Regions from separate parts of the Homo sapiens genome. Here region 1 is linked to region 2. The links come from fine-mapping of genetic effects on gene expression. A gene starts in region 2. The other region holds a variant in brackets. All regions are shown on one strand. Distances are from middle to middle.

The links.
Region 1: its variant is fine-mapped to the expression of MAN2B2 in aorta (GTEx, PIP above 0.99). The same link has a PIP of 0.9 or more in tibial artery.

What each region holds. Positions count from the first base shown.
Region 1 is chr4:6,615,778-6,624,537 of GRCh38, reverse strand. It overlaps MAN2B2 (mannosidase alpha class 2B member 2), which reads right to left. Exons shown (of 19, transcript NM_015274.3): 17 at 7,046-7,158; 18 at 4,494-4,611; 19 at 1,176-3,350. The coding sequence ends at 3,253. Among named protein-coding and RNA genes, the nearest start is that of MRFAP1, 21 kb to the left of the region's middle. RefSeq lists a silencer at 1,895-2,088. The variant G/T (reference allele first, on the strand shown) is at 4,125.
Region 2 is chr4:6,571,379-6,587,211 of GRCh38, reverse strand. MAN2B2 (mannosidase alpha class 2B member 2) reads right to left here and starts at 12,023. Exons shown (of 19, transcript NM_015274.3): 1 at 11,864-12,023; 2 at 10,488-10,634; 3 at 8,714-8,819; 4 at 44-216. The coding sequence starts at 12,001. It overlaps LOC105374365 (a long non-coding RNA gene), which reads right to left. Exons shown (of 3, transcript XR_925098.3): 2 at 13,605-13,703; 3 at 12,874-13,021. RefSeq lists a silencer at 11,774-12,233 and enhancers at 11,522-12,290, 12,291-13,058, 13,059-13,827.

The DNA of each region.
Region 1 (8,760 bases), 41 kb before region 2:
CAGTCGTCTGCCACTAAGCCTGGCTAATTTTTGTATTTTTTTAGAGAGGGGGTTTCACTATGTTGGCCAGCCTGGTCTCGAACTCCTGGCCTCTAGTGATCCACCCACCTTGGCCTCCCAAAGTGCTGGGATTACAGGCACGAACCACTGTACCTAGCCCCAGTGCACTTCAGAATCATCCTGTCAAGTTCCGCAATAAACCTGTTGGGGATTGTCAGTGAGCAACGTAGTTTATTGGGAGTTTGGTGGTGGTGGTTTGTAAAAAAAAAAAAAAAAAAAAAAAAAAAACAAACAACAACAACAAAAAACAGGCCATTCACAGTGGCTTGAGCCTGTAATCCCAGCACTTTGGGAGGCCTAGGTGGGAGGATCGCTTGAGCTCAGGAGTTCAAGACCAGCTTGGGCAACATAGTGAGACTGCGTCTCCACAAACATTTTAAAAATTAGTTGGGTGTAGTGACTCATGCTTGTAGTCCCAGCTACTCAGGAGGGTGGGATGGGAGGACTACTTGAGCCCAGGAGTTAAGAGGTTCCAGTGAGCTATGATAGTGCCACTGCACTCCCACCTGGGTGACAGAGCGAGACCCTGTGTCTAAAAAAGTAAAATGAAATGAAATAACAACAAAGCAACAAATGGATGTTAGATTTTAGCCAATATTCTGTCTATTGTGGGTGGGTTTTCCCCTGTCATCTATATTCTTCTCACTCTTCCCAGTTGAGGGTGCTGGGTGCTGGAGGGACCGCAGGGGGAAGTGGCTCTCTTGCTGTTTCTGTTCTGGACGGGGATGGTCAGCATGGGTGATGGTACTTTCAGTGCACATGATTTTTCTACAGCCTGGCTGCGCTGGGGATAACATTTCCATAGTCTTCTTTATTTTTTTCTGAGACAGGGTCTTGCTCTATTACCCCGGTTGGAGTTAGTGGCATGATCATGGCTCACTGAAGCCTCGACCTCCTGGGCTCAAGTGAGCCTCCCACCTCAGCCCCCAGAGTAGCTGGGACCACTGGTGCACACCACCACGCTCGTCTAAAGAATAGTTTTTGTAGAGATGGGGTCTCACTATATTGCCGAGGCTGGTCTGGAACACCTGGGCTCAAGCGATCCTTCTGCCTAGGGCTCCCAGCGTGTTGGAATTTCAGGCATGAACCACCACGCCTGGCCTCCGTAGTCTTCCTTTTTTTTTTTTTTTTGAGACGGAGTCTCACTCTTGTCACCCAGGCTGGAGTGCAGAGGCGGAGGTCTCCTCCGCCTCCCAGGTTCAAGTGATTGATTCTCCTGCCTCAGCCTCCCGAGTAGCTGGGACTACAGGCGCACACCACCACACCCGGTTAACTTTGTATTTTTAGTAGAGATGGGGTTTCACCATGTTGGCCAGCCTGGTCTTGAACTACTGACCACCAGTGATCCGGTTGCTTTGGCCTCCCAAAGTGCTGGGATTAAGGCATGAACCACTGCCCAGCCTCCATAGTCTTCTTGACACAGAAACCAAGCCTCATGCAGCCCACATGCTCTAAAGGGCTCCTGCCTCACTCCTTGTGCCTCAACCTCCCACTGCACATCCATGCCTCTGGTGGCTGCTCACCTGACCCCACCTCACAGGGGTGGCCTATTGCTTGGTCAGCAACTCCAGCCCAGCTCCTGCCTGGCCAAACCAGAGACTGTCTTTGCTGTCTGGTGGCCAAACTGCACGTTGTCCAGAGGTCTGACTCCTTCCAAGCTGGTCCTTTCTGGGTACTTTCCTTCAGCCCTAGAGTACCAAATAATTTCCTACATCTTACAGTTTACTCTTTAAAACGGTTTAGGCCGGGCACATTGGCTCACGCCTGTAATCCTGGCACTTTGGGAGGCCGGGGCAGGCAGATCACCTGAGGTCAGGAGTTCCAGATCAGCCTGGCCAACATGGTGAATCCCCGTCTCTACTAAAAATACAAAAATTAGCTGACGCAGTGGTGCATCTCTAGTAGCAGCTACTCGGGAGGCAGAGGCTGGAGAATTGCTTGAACCCAGGAGGTGCAGGTCGCAGTGAGCTGAGATCTTGACACTGCACTCCAGCCTGGGCGACAGAGTGAGACTCTGTCTCGGGAAAAAAAAAAAAAAGTTTTAAAATTGAGATATAATTCACAGACCATAAAATTCATCTTCCAAAGTTTTTAATTCATTGGTTTCTAGTATATTCACAAAGTTGTGCAACCATCATTCCACAATTTCATCATCTTCCAAAGAAAGCCCGTCCCTGTTAGCTGTCATGCCTCTTCTCTCTTCCTCCAGTACCTGGCAACCACCAATGTGCTTTGTCTCTGATACACAGATTTGCCTATTCTGGACATTTCACATAAACTCGTGATTGGCTTCTTTCACTTAGCGTAATATTTGTAGGATTCACTCAGGCTGTGGCATGCGTCAGAATTTCCTTCCTTTTTATGGCCAAATAATATTCCATTGTATGGACAGAACACACTTCATGTCTTAATTCATCTGTGGATGGACATTTGGGTTGTTGCTACCGTTTGACTTTTGAGTAATGCTGCTATGAACGCGGGAGCACAGGTATTGTGTGGATGGATGTTTTCAATTCTCTTGGGCATAGACCTGGGAAGGTTATACTTTTATTGATATTAATAGTTCTGATATTGGACATCCCTGCTGTGTGGTTTCACCTCTCATGGACTCTGACGGCTGCTGTGCCTTCTCTGCTCGGCAGGCGGTGCCCTGAGGCACAGGTGGGCGTCTGGGGCTGGAACTCTCGCTAGGCGCTACAACTTCCTCTCCTGCCCTGTGGCAGAGCCAAGCCCCTTGCAGGGCTGTTGCCAGCATGGGATGAGTCTATGAAAACACGTGGCACGCAGTAGGTCCACAGTTACCACTGGCAGCCTGGCAAGCCTGGCAGGGCCCGGACGGCAGATGCGCTTCGGTGCTGCTGTGAGTCTTGTGCTCTGCCTTAGGCAGAAAGTCCTGGGTTTGTGTTTTGTGAATGAATGACGCATGAGTGTGCCAAATATCCTTTACGTGACAGAAGAGGAGAGGGCTGGCTTGATTGAGTGTGGGGGGGAAGAACCTGGATCTTGTAATGTAATTTTTGTTTAAAAAAATTAGGGAAAAACCCCAAATATGACCATTTCCTGCCATTAGCCTGCAGATGAGCAGCTGACTCCCCAGTCCCATCCCTCCGCACTGCTTTTCCCTGTCCTGGGTCTGTTCTGTTACATGGAGTTCCTGGGGGAAGCCCTGGGGCCGGGGCATCTGCCCAGGGCTCACTGCTGTTGAAAGTGAATAAAGAACGTCCGGATTTCCTTTGGGTGGACGGTGATGATGGGGCCTCCTGGTGGCCTCGAGGGAGAGGTGGTGTCACCTAGGGGAACAGAGGTGATCTGTCCAGTGTGGCCTGGGATGCCTCCTCCCAGCCTCCCTCTCACCCCCTGCACCTGTCTACAGTCTGCTGTGGCTCCCAGCCTCCCTCTCACCCTCCTGCACCTGTCTACAATCTGCTGTGGCTCCCAGCCTCCTTCTCACCACACTGCACCTGGCTACAGTCTGCTGTGGCTCCCACCGTGGCAACGGCCTATGGCATCCCCTTCTGCCAGGACTCCTGTGGGCCTCTTGGCGTTTCTGCCCACCCTGAGGGCAATTCATAGGTTGGTCCTGGCCCTAGTGGCCTCAATTCCTCATGGGTGTTGCCCTCAAAGCCCAAGAGCTTTCTGAGACCATCTGGTGAGTCTGCCCTTGCCTCACCAGGCTCCCCTGAAGGCATGCCCTGGGGTTGGGCTTCGATCTTGGGAGGGAGCCGTCCACTTATCTATCACTCATCCATCTTCCTTCCTTCTTTCCAACCAACATCATCTTCCCTCCCTCCCTCCCTCCGTCCCTTCCTTCCTCCCACCACCAACTGAGCGTGCACCATGCACCCGCCACCATGCTGTGTGTAGTGGACAACGAGCTGCACAGGACAGAAGAAACCCCTGGGGCCAGGAGAGTGGAGGAGGCACTTGGCCTGGTTGGTGACTCTGGGGAGGCATCCTGGGGAGCTTGAGCAGGTGCTGGCCAGAGTGAATGGGACCTGTGCGTCCCAGGCAGAGGGCATGGTGCGGACAGGGAGTGGAGCCTGGAAGCTGCCTGTAGTGCAGGA[G/T]CTCACGGTGGCACATGTCGTATGAGGCAGGGACCGGCTGATGGGCTGAGGTCAGCAGGGCCAAGGTGGGCAGAAGCCCCTGGGCCCCTAGCTGTCACCCAGGGCACAGGCAGGGCGTGTGGTCTGCGTGTGCACACGTACAAGTGCACACACACGCCTGTGTGGAGCCCTGGCAGGCAGAGACTAACCCAAAGCCTTTCTTAACCGACTGTAGTAGATTTGGGAGGGCTGCGGGTTCAGAGTAGGAAAGCAGCCTCGCAAGGTCGCACAGGCCGGGACAGGCAGATGGTTGGATGTGCACCGGGTCTGACCAGCTGCTGAGCCTGGCTGGGAGTCCTGGGTAGGGAGCTGAAGCGGGGGTCCCCAAACCTCTGTGGCGGCCAGGCCCCGTCCTCCAGCTCCAGCGGTGCAGCATGCTCAAATCCCAGGTCCCTGTGAGCGAGCGCTCCTCCACTGCCACCACGGACCCCAGCGCCTGCAGCACAGCCTGCAGGGAGAGGAGCAGAGGGAGAGTGAGCTGCACCAAGTTCCAGAGCTGAGCAGAGAACCAAGACAGCAGCAGGGCAGACACACCACGAACTCGGTGTCCTCAGGAGCCCAGGTCCTCCCCTGGTGCCTGACACAGCTCCCTCATCTGCTTCTCACAGCACATCTGCGAGGACAGGACTGGCCGTGTACTTTACAGATGAGGACACTGAAGCGGGAGGTGCATGCTTTACCAGGTGGCCGAGCTGGAGGAGCAGCCCGGGAGGTGTGGCATTTTGAGCTGCCCACCCCACCGCGGAGTTCTCCTCTCCCCACATTGCTCAGGTGGCCCCGTGCCCAGTCCAGGGAGGAAGCCAGCCACAGTTACCCCATCCCCCTTTCCCAATAGGCCTTGTCCCAGCCTCCCTTACACCTAGGGGAGGCAGGAGGCCCTTAGGGGTCTGGAAAAGTCTGTGGAGCAGGAGGGCTGGGGGTGGCTCTTGGAGAAGCTTCTGTGTGCTGACGGAGGGAGAGAGCCACGCTAGGGCAAGGCCTTTCTGGCCACTACTGCTGAGCCCTACCCTGCCTTGAAATTTGCTCATGAGGGAGGCCTGTGCCATCTTGTGACCGCAAACAAGCAGACGGCAAAAGACAAAAGCCAGTCTGCCGGCGATGGCGGGAAGATGACAGTGATCGGGCCCACGGTGACAGCGCTTGGGGTCCATCGGACATGCCTGTTCGGTGAGAAAACACTCTGTCCTCTGTTCTAAGCACATCTGTTAGGTGTTTTGTGACTTGCAGCCAAACTCACTGCGTTCCTAACTCAATGGTCTTTCCACCCCACCACCGTCCACGTTGGGCAGGGAGTCATGGTGTCCATCCCAACCGTCTCCTTGTCTCAGGGCCTTGGTGCTTCCATCTGTGAAACGGGGGAGCATCAGATGACCAACTTCCAGGTCCCACGCTGGCCTCCTTGCTTCCCAGGGCAGGCTGGCCCTGTGCTGGGCACTGGTACCCGCCATGGCCTAGACCTGCTCTCAGGCAGGCCAGGGACCGTGAGGAAAGGATCCTCCGTGGCGAGGATCATGAAAGAGGAGGTGGGTGGCCCAGTAAGACATCATGGCGAAAAGGTACTGGGGCTTCTCTGGATTCCCCTGAAGACTCAGATGTCGAAGGAGGCCCAAGGCAGAAACACAGAGATTCACAGAAATTCTCCATGAGCAGGAAATGAAATAGAAAGAATGCAAACTGGGAAAGAAATGAGGCGGCTCAGGTCATGCCTTCTGGGGAGGGAGCGTGGGCAGGCCAGGTGGCGGAAGCCTCGCCTGATAGTAGAGCTGAGAGGGCAACATCAGCCAAGAGGGGAACCTGGAAGGGGACGAGGCCTGGGGGCCCTGACACTGCACGAGGCCCCTTAGTGCCAGGGCCTCTCAGCAACCTTCTGGGCAAAGAACTCTCACCTCTCCCCATTTTACATGGGGGGAAACTGAGGCCCAGAGGCATGGGGTGCCGGAGATGCCCCCGTAGAGGGGCCTGGGTGTGGACCCTGGATTGTCTGACTCTAAGTCACCTTTCAAAGCAACTCTATGGGGAATCTGTTTTGTTTTTGGATTACACAGATGTTGTCTGTGTTTTAAAAGTTTTACCACAGAATAAATAAGAAAGAAAATACAGGCCACTCACGCCTGTAATCCCAGCACTTCAGGAGGCTAAGACAGGCAGATTGCTTGAGGCCAGACGTTCGAGACCAGCCTGAGCAACACAGCAAGACCGTGTCTCTACTAAAAATAAAAAAACTAGGCCAGGCTTGGTGGCTCACGCCTGTAATCCCAGCACTTTGCGAGGCCGAGGCAGGTGGATCACCTGAAGTCAGGGGTTCGTGACCAGCCTGACCAACATGGAGAAACCCTGTCTCTACTAAAAGTACAAAAAAATTAGCCGGGCGTGGTGGCACATGCCTGTAATCCCAGCTACTCGGGAGGCTGAGGCAGGAGAATCACTTGAACCTGGGAGATGGAGGTTGCAGCCAGCTGAGAGCGCACCATTGCACTCCAGCCTGGGGGACGAGAGCGAAACTCGGTCTCAAAAAAAAAAAAAAAAACTTAGCCATCGTGGTGGCGCGCCCCTGTGATCCCAGTTACTTGGGAGGTTGAGGTGGGAGGATCACTTGAGCCAGGGAGGCAGAGGTTGCAGTGAGCTGAGATTGTGCCACTGCACCCCAGACTGGGCAACAGAGTGAGATCCTGTCTCACATATACACAAAAAACCCTAAAAAACCAGGCCAGTTGTAATACCTGACAAACCCAGAAGACCATGAAGAAGGGCGGGGTGGGGCCCATACCAGCGTCCATTTGGGAGGAAGCCCTCGTGGATCTCTTTGCCAAGGCAGTTTCTTGGGGCTTCATCTAGGGTTTGCTTCCCTGGCTTATGGTCTGGATGGGGGTGGGGAAGTTCACCTCCAGATTCACTGTCACTGGCTGAGACAGGACTGGGTCCTCGCCCACTTCATATAGGTGGTAGAGCCGCAGCAGGACACGGCGGAGGTCAGCCTGGGCTTCCCCTCGATGGCCTTTGGGGACAGAAGGAAGGTGGCAGTGAAGACCCTCATCAACCAACCCCAATGTCCCTGGTCTATACCCGCTGCTTTACACACTCAGCTCCATTTCCTATCTGTAACCTCCTCGATATGGTTTGGCTGTGTCCCCAACCAAATCTCATCGTGAATTGTAGCTCCCATAATGTCCACATGTTGTGGGAGGGACCTGGTGGGAGGTAATTGAATCATGGGGGTGAGTCTTTCCTGTGCTGTTCTTGTGATAGTGAATAAGTCTCATGAGACCTGATGATTTTGTAAAGGGCAGTTCCCCTGCACACGCTCTCTTGCCTGCCACCATGTAAGACGTGACTTTGCTCCTCATTTGCCTTCTGCCATGATTGTGAGGCCTCCCTATCCAGGTGGAACTGTGAGTCCATTAAACCTTTTTTCTTCATAAACTACCCAGTCTCGGGTATGTCTTTATGAGCAGCATGAGAACAGACTAATAGACTCCATGTGAGACAGCTGACATGGCCCCCACTCGACAAGGAAACCAAGGCTCAGAGAGGGGCAGTCACGTGCCCAAGGCATACAGCTGGTGCGCGGCAGAGGGAGGATTCCCACCCAGGTCTGGCCGACTGTAAGGCTGCCCACCATGACACCAGCTGCAATGTTTCCATCCTCGTCCACTGTTGTGGGCATATTGGGGCATGTCCTCAAATACTCCAGTCTCTCCTACCCTGCCCCCTTTGAAGTCAGGGGAGGCTGCGTGGCCTCTGTGGCCAATGCAAAGTGAGCTGAAGTGACGCAGTACTTCCCGGCAGAAGCTTTTTCTTGCCATGGTGAGTGAGGAAGCACGTGCTGCAATACAAACTCCATCAGCGGGGGGCGTGGTGGCCACAGCAAGAAAAACCTTCCTGCTAACCCCACTGGATGCACAGCATGGGGGAGAAATGAATATATACTGTTAAGACCGTGGGCATTCGGGGCTCTTTGTTACTGCAGCATACGCCAGCCACCCTGACTGATATAATGCTGTCATTTGCCACATGATGTATGTGATCTCCTGTCCCATCCCTGATCTTCCCACTCAGAAAGGCTCATTGCCATTGCTCCCGTTTTACAGATGGGAAGACCGAGGCTCAGAGGAAAGCACTGAGTTCAAGGTCCTGGAGAGAGGACCTGGTTAACACAGGTGCTTCCTAAACCCTGGCTGGTAGAACCTCAGCTCTGCAGCTATGCCTCAAAGCTGACTAAATCAATCTGTCTGGGATTAGAATTGAGGCATCAGTATTAAAAAAAAAATTTTGGCAGGGTGTGGTGGCTCACACCTGTAATCGCAGCACTTTGGGAGGCCAAGGAGGGCGGATTGCCTGCTGTCAGGAGTTTGAGACCAGCCTGGTCAGCACAGTGAAACCCTGTCTCTATTAAAAATACAAAAATTAGCTGGGCATGGTGGTGGGCACCTGTAATCCCAGCTACTCGGGAGGCTGAGGTAGGAGAATTGCTTGAACCTGGGTGGTGGAGGTTGCAGTGAGCCAAGATCACACCACTGCACTCCAGCCTGGGCAACAGATTGAGACTCTGTCTCAAAGAAAAAAAAAATTTTTTTAGAGACAGGGTCTTGCTCTGTTG
Region 2 (15,833 bases):
AGGAGCGGTCGCTGGGCGGCAGCAGACGCGGCACACCACTCACCCGGGCCTCCTGCATGGCTGCCTTCAGGTCGTAGTCGATCCGGGAGCCGAGGTGGGCATTGAAGCCCGCCAGCGCAAATAGGGTGGGCGTCGTGGCAGAGGCGCCAAACGGGTCAACGTGCCAGGAGAACTGTGGCCGGATCCCAAATGTTTCATAGAGAAACCCGTGTCCTTCTGCAAAGACAGCAACACCCTGCTGGTGCCTGGAGGGCGGGCCTGTGCCTCCCGGCCCCATCCTCACCCCAGGGGACCCTGCCTATCCAGTGGGTTGCAGTGCCAGCTACTGGGCCAGGCAGGGTCATGCAGAACTGCAGAGGTGAGGGTGTTAATTATTAACTTTTAATCATGGTGAAGTACATATAACATACAATTTACCACCTTAATAATTTGTGAGTGTATAGTTAAGTAGTGTTACTACATTCACACTGTTATACAACCACCACCACCATCCCTTTCCAGAATGTTCTCCTCTTCCCAAGTTGAAGCTCTTGGCCTCATTAAACACTAACTCCCTATGCCCCTCCCCCAGCCCCTAGCACCCCCATTCTACTCCCTGACTGCATGAATTTGATGCCTGTAGATATCAGCGGAATCACACAGCATCAGTCCTTCTGTGACTGGCGTATTTCACTCTGCGTAATGTCCTTAAGGTTCCTGCATGTTACAGCACGTGCAGGGGTGAGGATTTTTGTGTGAACTTGGATAGAGCACTGATTTTGATGATGCTATGGAGGTCTTGGACATCACCAACAATAAAAGGTTAAAGGTGAACTTCAAACCTAAGTGTGCGGTGGTTCAAAAGACGTCCAAGGCCAGCAATGTGGCTCACGCCTGTCATCCTGGCACTTTGGGAGGCTGAGGTGGGAGGATCGCTTGAGCCCAGGAGTTTGAGACCAGCCTGGGCAATATAGTGAGACCCCATCTCTACACATGCACACAAAATTTAAAAAATTAGCCAGGCGTGGTGGTGGCACATGCCTGTAGTCCCAGGTACTTGGGAGGTGGAGGTGGGAGGATCACTTGAGCTCAGGAGGTTGAGGCTGCAGTGAGCCATGATCCTGCCACTGCACTTCAGCCTGGGTGACAGAGTGAGACTCTGTCTCAAAAAAAAAAAAACCACAAGAAAAGATGTCCATAAATTATTGCTGCGTCTTCAACAGGTGAGGCTTAGGGCCTAGAGGGTGGCCAGACTCAGTGACTCACTTCTAACAAACACAGTGAAGCAGAAGTACCTGTGTACCCTTGAGGAGAGAAGGTGAAGGGCACACAGCTTCTACTGTGGCTGCCCTTGCCTGCTCTCCTGGGTCGCTGCTCTGGGGGCCAGCTGCTGTGCCATGACCAGTCACATGGCGAGGAACTGAGGCTTCCTCTCACAGCCGCGAGAGCCAGCCTGGAGTAGACCCTCCAGCCCCAGTCCAGCCTTCAGATGACACTGCCCCACCTGACTCCCAGATGGCAACTTTTCAAGAGGTCCTGAGCCAGAACCCCCTGGCTAAGTCACTCCTGAGCTCTTCACCCACAGGAGCTGTAGATATGAAATGTTTGTTCTCAGAAGTTTGGGGGCAATTTGCTACACGGAAATAGATCATGAATACAAAGGACTCCATGCCAGAATCACCCAACCATTCATTTATTCATTTATTACTTAAGAGTCACCATAGTGAACCAGATATTGGGTTCAGTGCTGCAGGGAAAAAGAAAACCCCAGACTTGTATAAGGCATTGATTAACATTCCCCAAGTCCTTGCCCCAAATATAATCTTTCTAACACCTTGAGAGATGGGTGTTATAATCTGCACTTTAAGATTGGTGAACAGTGCCTCAGAGAACTCTCATAACTGATCTAGAGTCAAACTGCCTTTCACTGATGAACTTGCAGTCCTGGGGACCCTGGCTGAGCCTCAGATGAGGCCTGGGATGCTGGGACCGAGCAGCAGTCAGACCTATGAGCAAGGCCAAGCAAGACAGGGCAGGGGATGACTGTGGGAGGTGAGGAGTGGGGCTGGCATCAGGTGCACAGCAGAGGTGAGAGGGGATCAGGGGGAGCGTGGACTAGGAGTGTGGGTGGAGGCTGTGCATATGTAAGCAGAGAGGATGGAGAAGGAGCAGCCAGAGGGTGGGGGGAGCACAGGGGGAGTGCCAGCTGCAGGATGAAGGAGGGAGTGGGCAACAGCACCGCACTGAGAGGAGCCAGGAGCTCTGGAGGGTACGGCCTCGCACCAGACAGGGCAGCCGGTGGGGGCAGGCTGAAGGCTGCCAAGTCAGCACCCCTTTTTCACTCGCAGAACCTTCCCTCTGTTCAGGGTGCACCATGCCCAGCCTCAAGGGACGAATCACAGTTGATCTAAGCCAAATGTGGCACGCTTACTCCCTCCTGTCAGATATTGGTTCTCTCTGTCTGGCAGCTGGAGGGGCATTGTTAAGTAATGAACTGGGAGGCCATCAGGCTGAGCCGGCTCCAGGCCTCGAGTTCCTCTGTCAGCAAACCCAAATCTAACTTGGTGGAAACAGGAAAAGAGAACTTAAGCTTGACCCATCGGAAACTGCCAACCAACCTCTAACTAGGGACTGTTCACTGTAGGCAAATGTTTTCTTTGTCTTGCTTTCAGGAGCACCTTATAGACGTTTCCCTCTCATATTCCCTTAGTGGAGCCATGAACTGCTCACAGTCTAGTACTTCCTGATTCAGGAATCACTGTTTGTTCAAATAAATGCTAACATTTTAGTGTGTCTAAGTTTATCCAACAGAATAGACTATGGGTATAGAAAGCCCCCTCTCTTCCTTTTACTGCCTTGAATGTGGTGTCTGGTAACATGATGGCTGGAGCTATGGCAGCCATATCGTGACCACAAGGGTAAGGACATGAGAATCACAGATATCAAGGTACTGCAGAACCAGTCCCAAACTATCCCCATCTTGTTAAGTAAATGTTCTTAAGACTCAAGTCGCTTTGTTACAGGTAGTTAGACAAGCATGAGTGGGGCAGGGGAGGGCTCTTCCCCCACCCACTAGGAATGTTGGGTGATGGTTTGGCAATTATCACATTGCCTCTCTAGAAGTGAGAAATTGGCAGCCAGCACTAGGGAGAGGGCATTTCCTGATGGTCCACACCTGTTGCACTAACATGTTAATTGAATGCAGGTGCCAGGGAGACGTGACTTCCCGAGCAGGTGCATTAAGAGACAAAATGGCGGAGTTTGACCTTCCAGGGACACTCCACTGGAAAAGGGAAGAAAGCGTCAGATGGGCATGTGTGCAACTTCCTAAACACAGTGCGTGTGCTCACCTCCCAAGGGTAAGGAGGGCACTGTGAGTGCGGGTAGCCCAGCCTAAGGGAAGAATCATGGGAAAGGGGACCAGCCTATAAAGTCCTAGGATCAAGGATCAATACAGCACTTGACCTTCACGTGCCCACTTGGGACTCTTTCAAGCATATTTTCCTTTCTTTCTCATTTTAAAGCCTTTTTAAATAAACTTCCACTTCTGCTCTGAAACATGCCTCAGTCTCTTTTTCTGCCTTATGCCCCTCAGTCGAATTCTTTCTTCCGAGGAGGCAAGAACTGGGGTTGCTGCAGACCCGTACGGATTAGCTGCTGGTAACTTGGATACCTTCCACCACTAACAGCTTTACTTAGGTTTTCTGGCCGTCCAGCAGAAAGCATTCCTGAGACTTCAGGGTGATTCATGACCAAAACTGTTAATTGGCGTCCGATATACATTCTGTCCTTCTTCCTTTTAGTAACAGAACCACACACTCCTTCTTGGTTTTAGCAGGGCAAATGGACTCCCAGCCAGAGACTACATTCCCCAGCCTCCTTTGCAACTGGTAGAGGTCACATGACACCACTCTGGCCAATGGACTGGGAGCAAAATAGACTCTATTCCCCAGCAGTCCCTGCAGTTGAGGGAGGCCATATGATTAAGTTCTGGCCAATGGAAATGTGAGGAGTGATGTGGGCAGGTTCTAGGTCGCCTTTTACAAGGAAGCTGCCTGCCCTGGCTCCACCATTCCCTATCCCCTAGCTGCTGGAAGGACAACTCAGTGGGGTGAGCCAGTCTAGACTGCAACTCAGGCAGGCAACACTGTGGGGGATGGCTGAACATCAAGATGGAAGCAACGTGGATCCCTGGGTCACTCCATGGAGCAGAGCCACCCAATCACCAGAGTGGCCTGCACTGCAGACTTCCACAGGAGAGAAACACACCTTCCTTCTTGTTGGAGTCACTTGGTCTCTGTTCAAGCTGCTGAACCAGTATCCTCACCAGTATAATGACCAGGCCACAAGCAAGCTCACTAGCACATGCAGGGCAGAGGCCAGGATGCAGGGGCTGAGGGTGAAGTAGTGGGAGGTGGTGGGGGGTGAGGGGGTGGTGGGAATAAATGCCATTACAGCCTGAGCTGGAGGGTCTTGCTTTATGATGTTGAGGTCAGGAGTTCAAGACCAGCCTGGGCAACACAGTGGACCCCATGTTAAAAAAAATTTTTTTTTGAAGAGAGACAATTTAAGTGTGTTTTCAATACTGCTGGGGGCCGGGCTTGGTGGCTCAGGTCTGTAATCCCAGCATTTTGGGAGGCCAAGGTGGGCGGATCACTTGAGGTCAGGAGTTCAAGACCAGCCTGGCCAACATGGTGAGATCCCTGTCTTTACTAAAAATATGAAAATTAGCTGGGCATGGTGGTGCACGCCTGTACTCCCAGCTACTCAGGATGCTGAGGCATAAGAATTGCTTGAACCTGCGAGGTAGAGATTGCAGTGAGCCGAGATTGCGCCACTGCACTCCAGCCTGAGTGACAGAGTGAGGCTCTGTCTAACAACAACAACAACAGCAGCAACGGCAACAACAACAACTAAATACTGCTGGAAGGAGTCAGAGAGACAAGAGAAGGTGGAAGAGAGTCTGTGACACAGGAGAGGGATCGCGGATTCAGTGGGAAGGGAGTGGGGTTGGGGGACAGGGCTGAGAGCTTGGGTTTGAATGGCCAGGACAGCAGTGGTCATCCAGGATGGCCCAAGGTGTCTCCTTGACTCTCACCTGGACCCTTTGCCTCTCAGCACCTCTGAGGCGGGAGCTGGGCTCTCTCCCCTCAGGATAGGGGTGAGGGGTTCTTTCCCTCTGGCACCTGCCACTCTGCTGGGCCTCCGCTAAACATCCCAGCTGGGAAAGTGTCCCCTCAGGGAGGGGCATGAAAGCTCTTACCCCCGGGGGCCGCTGCCCACACCCAGCCTTTCCCTGACACTGCAGTGCTGGGAACAAATGCTTTTCCCCTCACTAGAAATGTCACATCTAAAATTAAGGTGGTGTTGGCGTGACTGCCGGGAGCAGGAGTTGGGGAGGTAAAGGCTGGAAAGGTGAGCTTACGGGCAGGCCCAGTGCCCCAGGCCCTGGCGGGCAGCCAGGAGTGGGTCTTGGTTGAGGAGATGCTTTGGCACCCTAGATACCCGAAGAAGAAGGTCAGAGGTCTAGAGGCTGCACCAGCCTGCTCCTGTCTTCCTTTGCTGTCCAGGGCCTGCCTCGAGGCAGGGGCTCCACCAAGGTGAGATGGAGGATAAAGGGCCCGGAAGCAGTGAGGGGTGATCCAGCCCCTCTTACCCCAACATATCTGAGAAAACCAGCCCAATGTGGACATAATTCACAGCCAGAATGCCTGGGACATCTGAGATGGGTGGTCTGATACACACACTCTGCCCCCGCCCTAGGGACTACAAGTTAAGGAAAGAGCCCAGGCCAGGCACACATGGGCTTGAGCGCCAGTTCTGTTACCTACTGCATATATATAAATCCCGCATCTCTCAGTACCTCAGTTTCCTCATCTGTCAAATGGGGCTGTGAACAGTACCACTTGCTACCAGGCTGTTCTGAGGCAACTAAGAGATAGCAGATGGGAAAGGGCTTGGCTCAGCCGCCAGTGAGAGGGGCTCAGCCACAAGTAACCTTCCTGACTCGGCCGGGCTAGGGTTGGATCTGGGTCCCATCACTTAGCTGGTGGTGGGCACATTTGGATAGCATTTGAGCCTCAAACTTCTCTACAAATAAGCATTTGTAAGATTACCCATCTACCAGATTGCCCTGAGGACTGAAAAAAAAATACGTGTACATCTTGTACCTAGAACAAGGTGGTTATCATGAAAGAAACCCACATGTCTGTACCCTGAGGGCCCCATGAGCTTGGACAGGTTTGGAAATGGAGCCTCACAACAGCCGCTGTCTCTTGTGTCTCTGGAGGCTCTTCCTGCCCCAGAGCGACACAGCCTCAGCTTCCCTGAGGCTTCCAGTTGCCAGGTCAGACCTGCAGGGTCAGCGCTGGGGTATCAGCACTTAGGCACGGTGGGCTGAGGCCAGAGGCGAGGTACCCCAGTGGTGGGTACCCTCAGGGCAGGGCAGTTCAGCGCCCACCCCTTGCCCAGCCTTGCCCAGTAAGCAGTGGTCTGGGCCAGACCCTATGCTGGGTGCTGAGATGAGTCAGATGGGGGTCCCTGCCAGGGGCATCTTGAGGTTCAGCGGTTAAGTGGGGAGGTGACACAGAACTGCAGAGACTCAGAGATTTCCTGCGGGAGGGGCTTCTCAGCTGCATCTTGAGGAGGAGGGTGGAGAATGAGGGGGAGCACTGCGTGAAATGGCACAGGTGAGAAACAGCCCCAGAGCCTCCTCGCTGGCACGGGGCAGGAGGCAGGTGGGGGACACGCCTACAGTGTCACACATTCCCTGGCAGTGGGCTTGTGAAGGGGTGTGGGGGAAGTCTGTTGGGATAGATCCCTTGCCCACACTTCACATGGGGGAGTGAAAGAGCAGGGGCTCTGGAGTCAGGGAGCCACAGCAGGCGGCTGAGGGCAAGGTGCTCCCTCTGAGCCTTGCTGTCCTCCCCTGTTACCTCTGGGCCTGTGGGGATGCAGGGGGACAAGCAGGGGCTGAGCTCCTGGCCACAGGAGGAGCTCTGTCTGTAGGGCTGTGTCCATCACGCCTCCTTCTCATGGAAGGGCAAGTCTAGGGTTTGAGCAAAGTCCAGATGTAAGGCAGTAAGAAACTGAGACAGGGGAACACTCCAGATTACAGATGAGAAAAGGGAGAGTGCCAAAAACATCCTTTGACAACATTGCTCTCTGCCTGGATGTTTTACAAATGGGGAAATCAGGGCCCATGCTGTAGTGGAGTGACTGTGGACTCGGAGCTTCAGTCCCTAGGCCTGGACTCAAGTCCTGGCCATCTACCCTGGAGAGAGTTACTGCATTTCTTTGGATCTCAGTTTCTACATCTGCAAAATGAAACTGGGCATCACCATGCCTCACCATCAGCCCGCCATTAGGATTGGCTGGGGTGTCACTGTGAAAGGCATTTGGTAAATGGTGAGTAGAGTGCCCCACGGCACTGTGGGTGATGGTGCTGAGGACAGTGGACACAATGGTGAGGGAGATGGTCATGGTGGTGGTGATGATGATTGTGGAGGGGATGGTAGTAATGGATGTGGTGATGGTGGTGGCGACAGTGATGGGTGGTGATCATGGTGATAGTGTTTAGGGGGTGGTGGTGATGGTAGTGGTAGTAATGGTCATTGTAGTGGTGAAGATGATGGTGGTAGTGGTGATGGTGGTGATGGTAGTGGTAGTAATGGTAGTGGTAGTGGTGGTCATAGCAGTGGTGAAGGGTGGTGGTGATGGTAGTTATGATGGTGGTGGTGATGGTAGTGGTAGTGATGGTCATTGTGGTGGTGAAGGGTGGTGGTGATGGTGAAGGGTGGTGGTGATGGTGGTGGTGATGGTGATGGTGGTGGTGGTGATGGTGAAGGGTAGTGGTGGTGGTGGTGATGGTGATGGTGGTGGTGATGGTGATGGTGGTGGTGGTGGTGGTGGTGATGGTGGTGGTGGTGGTGATGGTGGTGGTGATGGTGATGGTGGTGGTGATGGTGGTGGTGGTGATGGTGGTGAAGGGTGGTGGTGGTGATGGTGGTGGTGGTGGTGGTGATGGTGATGGTGGTGGTGCTGGTGATGGTGATGGTGGTGGTGGTGGTGGTGATGGTGATGGTGGTGGTGATGGTGGTGGTGGTGGTAGTGGTGATGGTGATGGTGGTGGTGCTGGTGATGGTGATGGTGGTGGTGGTGGTGATGGTGATGGTGGTGGTGATGGTGGTGATGGTGGTAGTGGTGATGGTGATGGTGGTGGTGGTGGTGATGGTAGTGGTAGTGATGGTCATCGTGGTGGTGGTGGTGATGGTAGTAGTCATGGTCATTATGGTGCTGAAGGTGGTAATTGTGATGGAAGGCAGCAAACACTTACTGAGCATTTACTAGGGAACCCACATCCTACTAAAGTGCTTTATTTGAATTATCCCATTTAATACTCACAACAACCCTTTGAGGTAGGTATTACCATCAAACTCATTTTATCTATGAGGAAACTGAAGTTACATTCCTTTCCAGGGTCACAGAGGAGGGAATTGGCAGAGCCAGGATATATTGAGACCATCTGACTCTAGCATCCATGCTCTTAACCCCTACATTCAACTTCCTTGGTGAGGCATGAATATGGCACTAGCAAATCACTGCTTTCACTGGTTAAGGTCCCCGACCCCACTAAGAGGGGCAGACAGAGCTCAGAACCTGGGGGTTCTGATACCATGTCCCAGCCCCACTGGAGGTCCTGAGGGACCCTGGGTGCAGGGTAGGGTGGCCAAACCTGTGAGCTGCAGGATCTGGTCATCAAGGTGCGTCACAGCCTCGTCATGCATGACCTGGCCTCCGATGACAAATTCCAGGCGTCCTTCCTCCAGGAGCTGGCGGACCTTGACATGGGCAGGCAGAGAGAAAAAAGCCAGTTACGGCTCCTGAGCATGGCTGGGTCTGTGGGGAACACACCTACAGCGCCACACACGCCCTGCATAAAACTCCCCACCCTTGCTTACTCTATAAAAGCAGGGCACTGTCTGTCCTGGTCCACACTGTGTTCCCACCACCTAGAAATCATGCAGCCCTCAGGTGGTATTTGAGATATATATTTGTATATATAAGATTTTCTTAAATCTTATTTTATTAACTAATTCTAAACTTTAGAAAAGTTTCAGGAATAGAACAAAGAGCTCCCATATCCTTTCCCAAGGTTCACTCATCACTACCATTTTTAACCTATTTGCTTAACATCCCCGTCTCTACACACATAACACCTTTGTTGCCCTAGACACTACACACCTCAGTATGTGTACACACAGCTGTTTATAGGCTGTGCCTTTGGTTTGTTTCTTAAGGTGCACTATATGTAGATCATTCACTCAACAAATGTTAAGTGAGCACCTACTACACAACCAGCACTGTTCAGGCACTGGGGGTTCAGCAGTGAATGAAGCAGGCAACAATTCCTGCCTCCAGGGAGCTCTGCCACAAGTTTCCTGTCCAGGTCTTCACTGGGCCATGCAGGCCATGCTTCTCTTTGAGGGCTAGGAGACAGACCACTGGGTTTGGTGGGGTCCACCTGAAGAAGCATGGGACGCTCACAGGATATCCTGGAAAGGCCTGCCTCGAGTCAGGCATGCCTGGCTCAGAATCCCACCTGCCGCTTACAAGCTGTGTGACTGCAGGCCAGTGGCGTGCCCTCTCTGAACCTGGAATGTCTCTTTAACTTGAGGTAAGAACCCCACTATCTGGCAGCATCAAGTGGCCATTGGATGTCCGGCTCCTTCCCGTGACTCTGGCGGGGCCTGGTGGACGCCCTGCTCTCCCTTCTCCGCTTCACTCCCTTGAGCAAGTCACTTGGCGTCCCTGAACTTTATGTTCAGCAACTATTCTGAAGGCAGGTGGATACCTGGGAGGAAACTAAGAACCCCCGAGTATCGTCCTGGGTGCTCACGCCAGGGCTTCATTCTTGGCATGACTTTTCTGCAATGGGGCGGTCACCCCCGTTTAATAGAAGTGGAATCTGTGGCTCGCAGGGGCTAGTCGTGTCCCCTGGTGCGGGAGCAGGATGGGACCCAGGCTGCCTCACTGTGCAGCGGGGACTCTGACTCTCCATGCTGTATGAAGCAACCTGCTGCCTACCCTCAAACCACAGGGACTATCGCACCCTCATCAAGGGTCACCAGACCCTGGGCCCGGGGGCCAGGCAGATAACACAAATGAGAGAAGAGGGTGAGGGCTTGGGGACACCTGGGATGCCTGGTGTCAGGGGGCACTGCTGACTTAGTGCCAGCTGGCACGGAAGTGCACAGCTGGGTTGCCAGAGCTGGCAGTTTTTTCAAGAATAGACAGAAATTCAGGATTAAATTGAAAGCAATCTCTCCCAGGCATGGAACTCACCGTGAACCTTGATCTAAACAAGGCTGTGAATAGCCCGGTGGGGTTTTGGCCCTGTGGTTTATGCCAGCCTGGCCCTGGCCCTGGCTAGAACTGCCCCATTGAGTTTTCCACCTGGGTCTTTGCCAGGATACTGGGCCAACTGTGTCACCTGGTGACCTCATTACCTGGTATTTCTGCTGGTCCGAGGCGACGCCATCCCACCACAGCCGGAAAAACTCCTGCTCCACAGCGATGAACCGGCGCTGCTGGCCGCGGGCCAGCTCTTCCACCACTGAGGTGTAGACATTGGCGGCGTACGCCCGCATGCTTTCCTGGGGAGGGGACAGCATCATGCCAGCCCCGGTCCAACAAGACCAAGTGTCCCTGGGGCCCCTGCCATTCGCCAGGTGTGTCTGCATGGGGTTGGGGGCTCTGCCCTTCCTTCCCTGCTGCTCACCCCCCACACAGCTATTAGGCACTCGCTCCATACCAGGCTCTCCCCACTGGATGGGATCGTGCTCTCCTGGGGGAGAGGGACGGGGAAACAGACACCCTACATGGGCAGAGACAGGTGCCCTCCCAGCCCAGGGGTCAGGGACAGTTTCTCAGAGGGGTGAGCAAGCTGGGCCTTGAGTGTGCAATTTGGGGGGCTGGGCCCTGAGTGTGCCATTGAGGGGCAGCACAGGAAAGTCTTAGGCCTCAGTCGGGGTGTGGTCCAGTGACCCCAAAGGGGCCTGCTGGGGCTGAAATGAGGAAAGCTGGTGCTGAGAGGAAGAGCTCCCCAGGCTGTCCCTGGCGTCTAGGCGTCTGCCTCCCCAAGGCTGGGAGCTCCAAGGACCACAGCTGTAGTGTGTTCCCATCCGAGTCCCGAGGGCCCTGCACACAGGGTGCCCACAGAGTGCTTACATGAATGGAAGGAGCACCGAGCAGGGAGTCAGGAGGCATGAGGGTTATTCCCGAGCGACCTTGGGCAAGGCAGCAACCCTCTCTGGGCCTCGGTTTTCTCCTCTGGAAACTGGCTGTAGTGGGCATGCTTCCCCTACCCTTTACAGATGGGGAAACTGAGGCTTAGGGACCAAAGCCCCTCGCCCAAGGTCCTGAGCAGAACCAGGAGGTGACCACAGGTCCACCTTCACCCCTGTCCTGGGGGGCGGAGGACGCTGAGCTGGCCTCCAATATTCAGCCCCGCAGGGGACCAGCCCGGCCCCTTCCCAGCGGGCACCTGACATCCACCTGCTCTGAAGCCAGCCCCACCCTCTCCTGCTCCAGGCTTCCCTGGAAAATGGGTTACCACTGTCAACCCCCAAGCCCCTCCCCAGCCGGGAATGCAGGGGTCCCTCCAATCTGCACCACCCTCCAGAAGGGGAAATGGGGGTTCAGAGGCAGGAAGTGACTGGCCCGAAGTTAGCGACGCAACCAGTCAATGGCAGCGTGGGGTCCTGAACCCACTGAGCCTCCTTCTGCGCCGGCATCGGGCCCCGGGACGCAAACCCACACTCAGATCCCGCGGGGAGAGGGAAGCTGCAGCCTCAGGGGCGCGCGGGGCGTGGTCGGCACCTACCTGCACAGTGTAGACCCAGCCCACGTCCATGTGGCTGTGGGGCACCACGAAGGCCCGGATGGGGCCGGCGGACTGGACCCCTGGCGGTCGCAGCAACAGGAGCGGTGCCAGCAGCGGCAGCCAGCACAGCTGCCCCATCCCTGCGGCAGGCCGGGAAGGTGCCAGGCCCACTTCCGGGTCCGCGAGGGGCGGGGCGGCCGCGCGGGCGGGGACGCGGCCCATTGGCTGCGGGCGGGGGCGGGGCCCATTGGTTGCCGGCTGGACGCCGACCCCGGGAAGCTCGGGAAGGAGGAGCTGGAGGCGCGGGGCCCTCAGCGGGGCAGGGCGCCTGCTCTTTGCGGTTTAGCTCTCCATCCCCGTCTCCAGCTTTCTGGCCTTCCCTCCCTGTCCATCCTTTCAGCCCCATCTCCCCCAAGCCTGCCAGATCTCCCCCAACCAGAGGAGACCCCTCCTCGCCCAAAGCCCACGCTCTGGTGGTTCCTCTCGGAGCGTGTGCCTCTTCGCAATACCTGCATCCCGCCCTCTGGACTCGGCTCCGGGACTCTGAGGCTACCGTGCAAAATTCGGCTCAGCACGGACCCTGTGAGCTCTGCCACCAGGAACCTTCCCTGATAACCCTTTCCCTCCTCTCCCTGGCGTCGAAACCCCATCTGGGCGGCGCCATGGGGGGCTTGTTATGGGACTGTCTCCTTTTTTTTTTTTTGGACAGGATCTCACTCTGTCTCCCAGGCCGGAGTGCAGTGGCGCGATCAGGGCTCACTGCAGCCTTGACCTCCCGGGCCCAAGTGATCCTCCCACCTCAGCCTCCTGAGTAGCTGGGACCACAGGGGCACACTGCCACACCCAGCTAATTAAAAAAAAAATTTATAGAGATGGGGGCCTCACTATGTTGCCCAGGCTGGTCCCAAACTCCTGAGCTCAAGCGATCCTCCTGCCTCCGCCTCTCAAAGTGCTGGGATTACAGGCATAAACCAGCATGCCTGGCTCAACTGTCTCCATTTTAAGGAGGAGAACTGGCTTTCAGAGACAGTAACTGACTTGTCCAAGATCACGCAGTTAGTGGAGGAGCCAAGAGAAGCTTTCTGGGTTACTGGATGGTGACCTGGGGCGACATAGGTAACCTCGCTGAGCCTCAGTGAAATGGGTCCGATAGAGGAGCTGTGAACAAAGTAAGGATGCACCCAGGCTGAGAGCGTGAGCACAGCACCCCTTGCCTGCACTCAGGGGAGGTGCGGTCACATTGGTGCAGCCTGTTTGGGACTGTTGCCTGGAGTCAGCCCTGTCCACTACTCCCTGCCCAAGAAAGCAAGGGTCTGTGGCTTGGGGTTTACTGTCTGAGAACCACTTGGCTGTGCCCCTGCCTGGCATTTCCTAGCGGAACCAGAGCTGCAGCTCTGAGCAAAAGTGCTGGTCCTCTTGTCCATTATGTAACAAATGGAAACTGAGAACAGGTTCTCCAAGCAGGTCTCCCTCCTCCTTCTGTCCTGTCCACCCCCTGGGGACCCCTGCATCCCCATAGCCTCAGGTCAGATGGTCTGAGCCTGACGTGGACAGTACTCACTAACACATGTCCCCATGACCGGCCAGGCTCACAGCTGGGCTCCACTCTCCAGCCTCTGCAACCAGGTGCGGCCACGTGGCTAAGTGCTAGTCAATGGGATGGGTGGGGGCGGGCACTGTGCTCCTCTTCCAGGCTGGCCCCTAACAACCTCCTGTGGGTGAGCCCTGCTCTCTTACTCACCCACTGCTCCAGTGGAGGGCACTCCGAGGACCTCAGGGAGGTTAGAGCCACCAATGGAGGCTCTGAAGAACCACATGGAACCATGAGGAACCCAAAGAGCTGTGACAAGAGGGAGAAATAAGCTTTAATTGTGTTAAGCCACTGAGTTTATCGATAAGGCAGTGTCACAATCTTTGGCAGACTGTATCTGCCAAAGATGGGCTCCACAACATTACCCACCCCCCAAGCTCTTTGTAGAATTTGGTTGACGAGAAAAGCCACACTCTAAAATATCTCAGAACGTTTATTCTAAGCCAAATAGGAGTGACCATGGCCTGTGACACAGCCTCAGGAGGTCCTGAGAACAGGTGCCCAAGGTGGTTGGGCTATAGCTTTATACATTTTATGGGGACAGAAGTTACAGGCAAAGACATGAATCAATATATGTAAAGTATACATTGGTTTGGCCCAGAAAGGTGGGACATCTTGAAGTGGGTGGGTGGTGCTTCCAGGTCAGAGGAGGATTCAAAGATTTCCTGATTGGCAATTGGTTAAAAGAGTTAAGCTTTACCTGAAGAGTTGGAGTCGGCAGAAAGAAATGCTTGAGTTAAGACAATGGGGATGTGGAAGCTAAGGTTCTTGTTACATAGATGAAGCCTCCAGTTAGCAGGCTTCAGAGAGAATAGATGTGCATGTCTCTGGGGACCTTAAAAGGTATCAGACTCTCTGGAAAAGAGCTAGTAAGTAAGGAGATTCTCTACAGAATGCAAGTTTCCCCCACAAGAGATGACTTTGCAAGTCCATTTCAAAATATGTCAAAGAAAATTTATTTTGGGGTAAAATACTTTGATTTCCTTTAGGGCCTGCTCTCTGTCGTGTGTTGCTATACCAGAGTCATGTTAGAATCGGGTATCTGATTGCTACAAAAGTGTTCTGTCAGTCTTAGGAGGATCTCTATGTTAATGTTAATGCTGGTCAGCTGTGCCGAAACTTAAAGGGAGGAGGCTATGATGAGGCATGTGTGACCTCCCACTTCCCATCATGGCCTGAACTAGTTTTTTGGGTTTCTTTGGGGTCCCCTTGGCCGACAGGGGGTCCATTCTCTCAGCTGGGGCTTATAATTTTATTTTTGATTTACAATATGATCTTGACATTCTTCCTATTAGGAGATAGGGTCTATGTCTCCTCTCATTGAATCTTGTTTATTTATTGTTTTTTATTTTATTAATTTTTGTGTTTTTTAGAGATAGAGTCTTGCTCTGTTGCCCAGGCCAGAGTGCAGTGGTGGACTCCTAACTTACTTCAGCCTCAAACTCCTAGGCTCACGTGATCCCCCTGTTTCAGCCTCCTGAGTAGCTGAGACCACAGGTATGTGCCATCATGCCTGGCTAATGAAAACTTTTTTTTTTCTTTTTTTTTTAGATATAATATCCCGTTATGTTGCCCAGGCTGATCTTGAACTCCTGGGCTCGAGGCATCCTCCCACCACCATCTCACAAAGTGCTGAAATTATAGGTGTATGCCACCATGCCCAACTAATTTTTCTTTTCTTTTTTGTAGACAAGATCTCTCTATGTTGCCCAGGCTGGTCTCAAACTCCTAGCCTCAAGGGATTCTCCGAAAGTGTTGGGATTACATGCATAAGCCACTGTGCCTGGCCCATGGGCGGGCTTGTGACACACTTGTTACAAAGAGAATGTAGTGAAAGTTGTACTGTGTGACTTCCATGACATCCATGTTCACTGGAGCACTCGTGCCTGGAGGCCTGAGTTGCCCTGTCAGCAGTCCAACTACCCTGAGGCCACCATGCTGTGAGGAAGCCCAACCAGCCCACATGGGGCAGACCACAGGGAGCAGCTCAAGATCACCATGCTGTTTCAGCTCCAGCCCCCCATCTGACTACAACAACATGTGAGACCTCATGTCATTTTCTCTCCTGCCCACTGTATCACAGCTGTGTAGGGTTTCATTTGTACTTTCCTCAAGGCTCTTGCGTGAGCTCTTGCTGCAGCTAGTCTCAGGCTTGAAGGTGATACTCACAACCCCCTCCTGGATTATTCATTCAGATCCCTTTCACCCTCAGCTAGACCCATGCTGGACTAGATAGCTTACCTGGTGGGTTGCCCCAGATCCTCACCAACGAGGATGAGCCCCTGGTGACCATTCCCTTCTTGAGCCATAGCTGCTCACTTGCCTATTTGCTGACTACATCAGGTGAAAGAGTCCTGAGGGACACCCATGTGGGTGGCA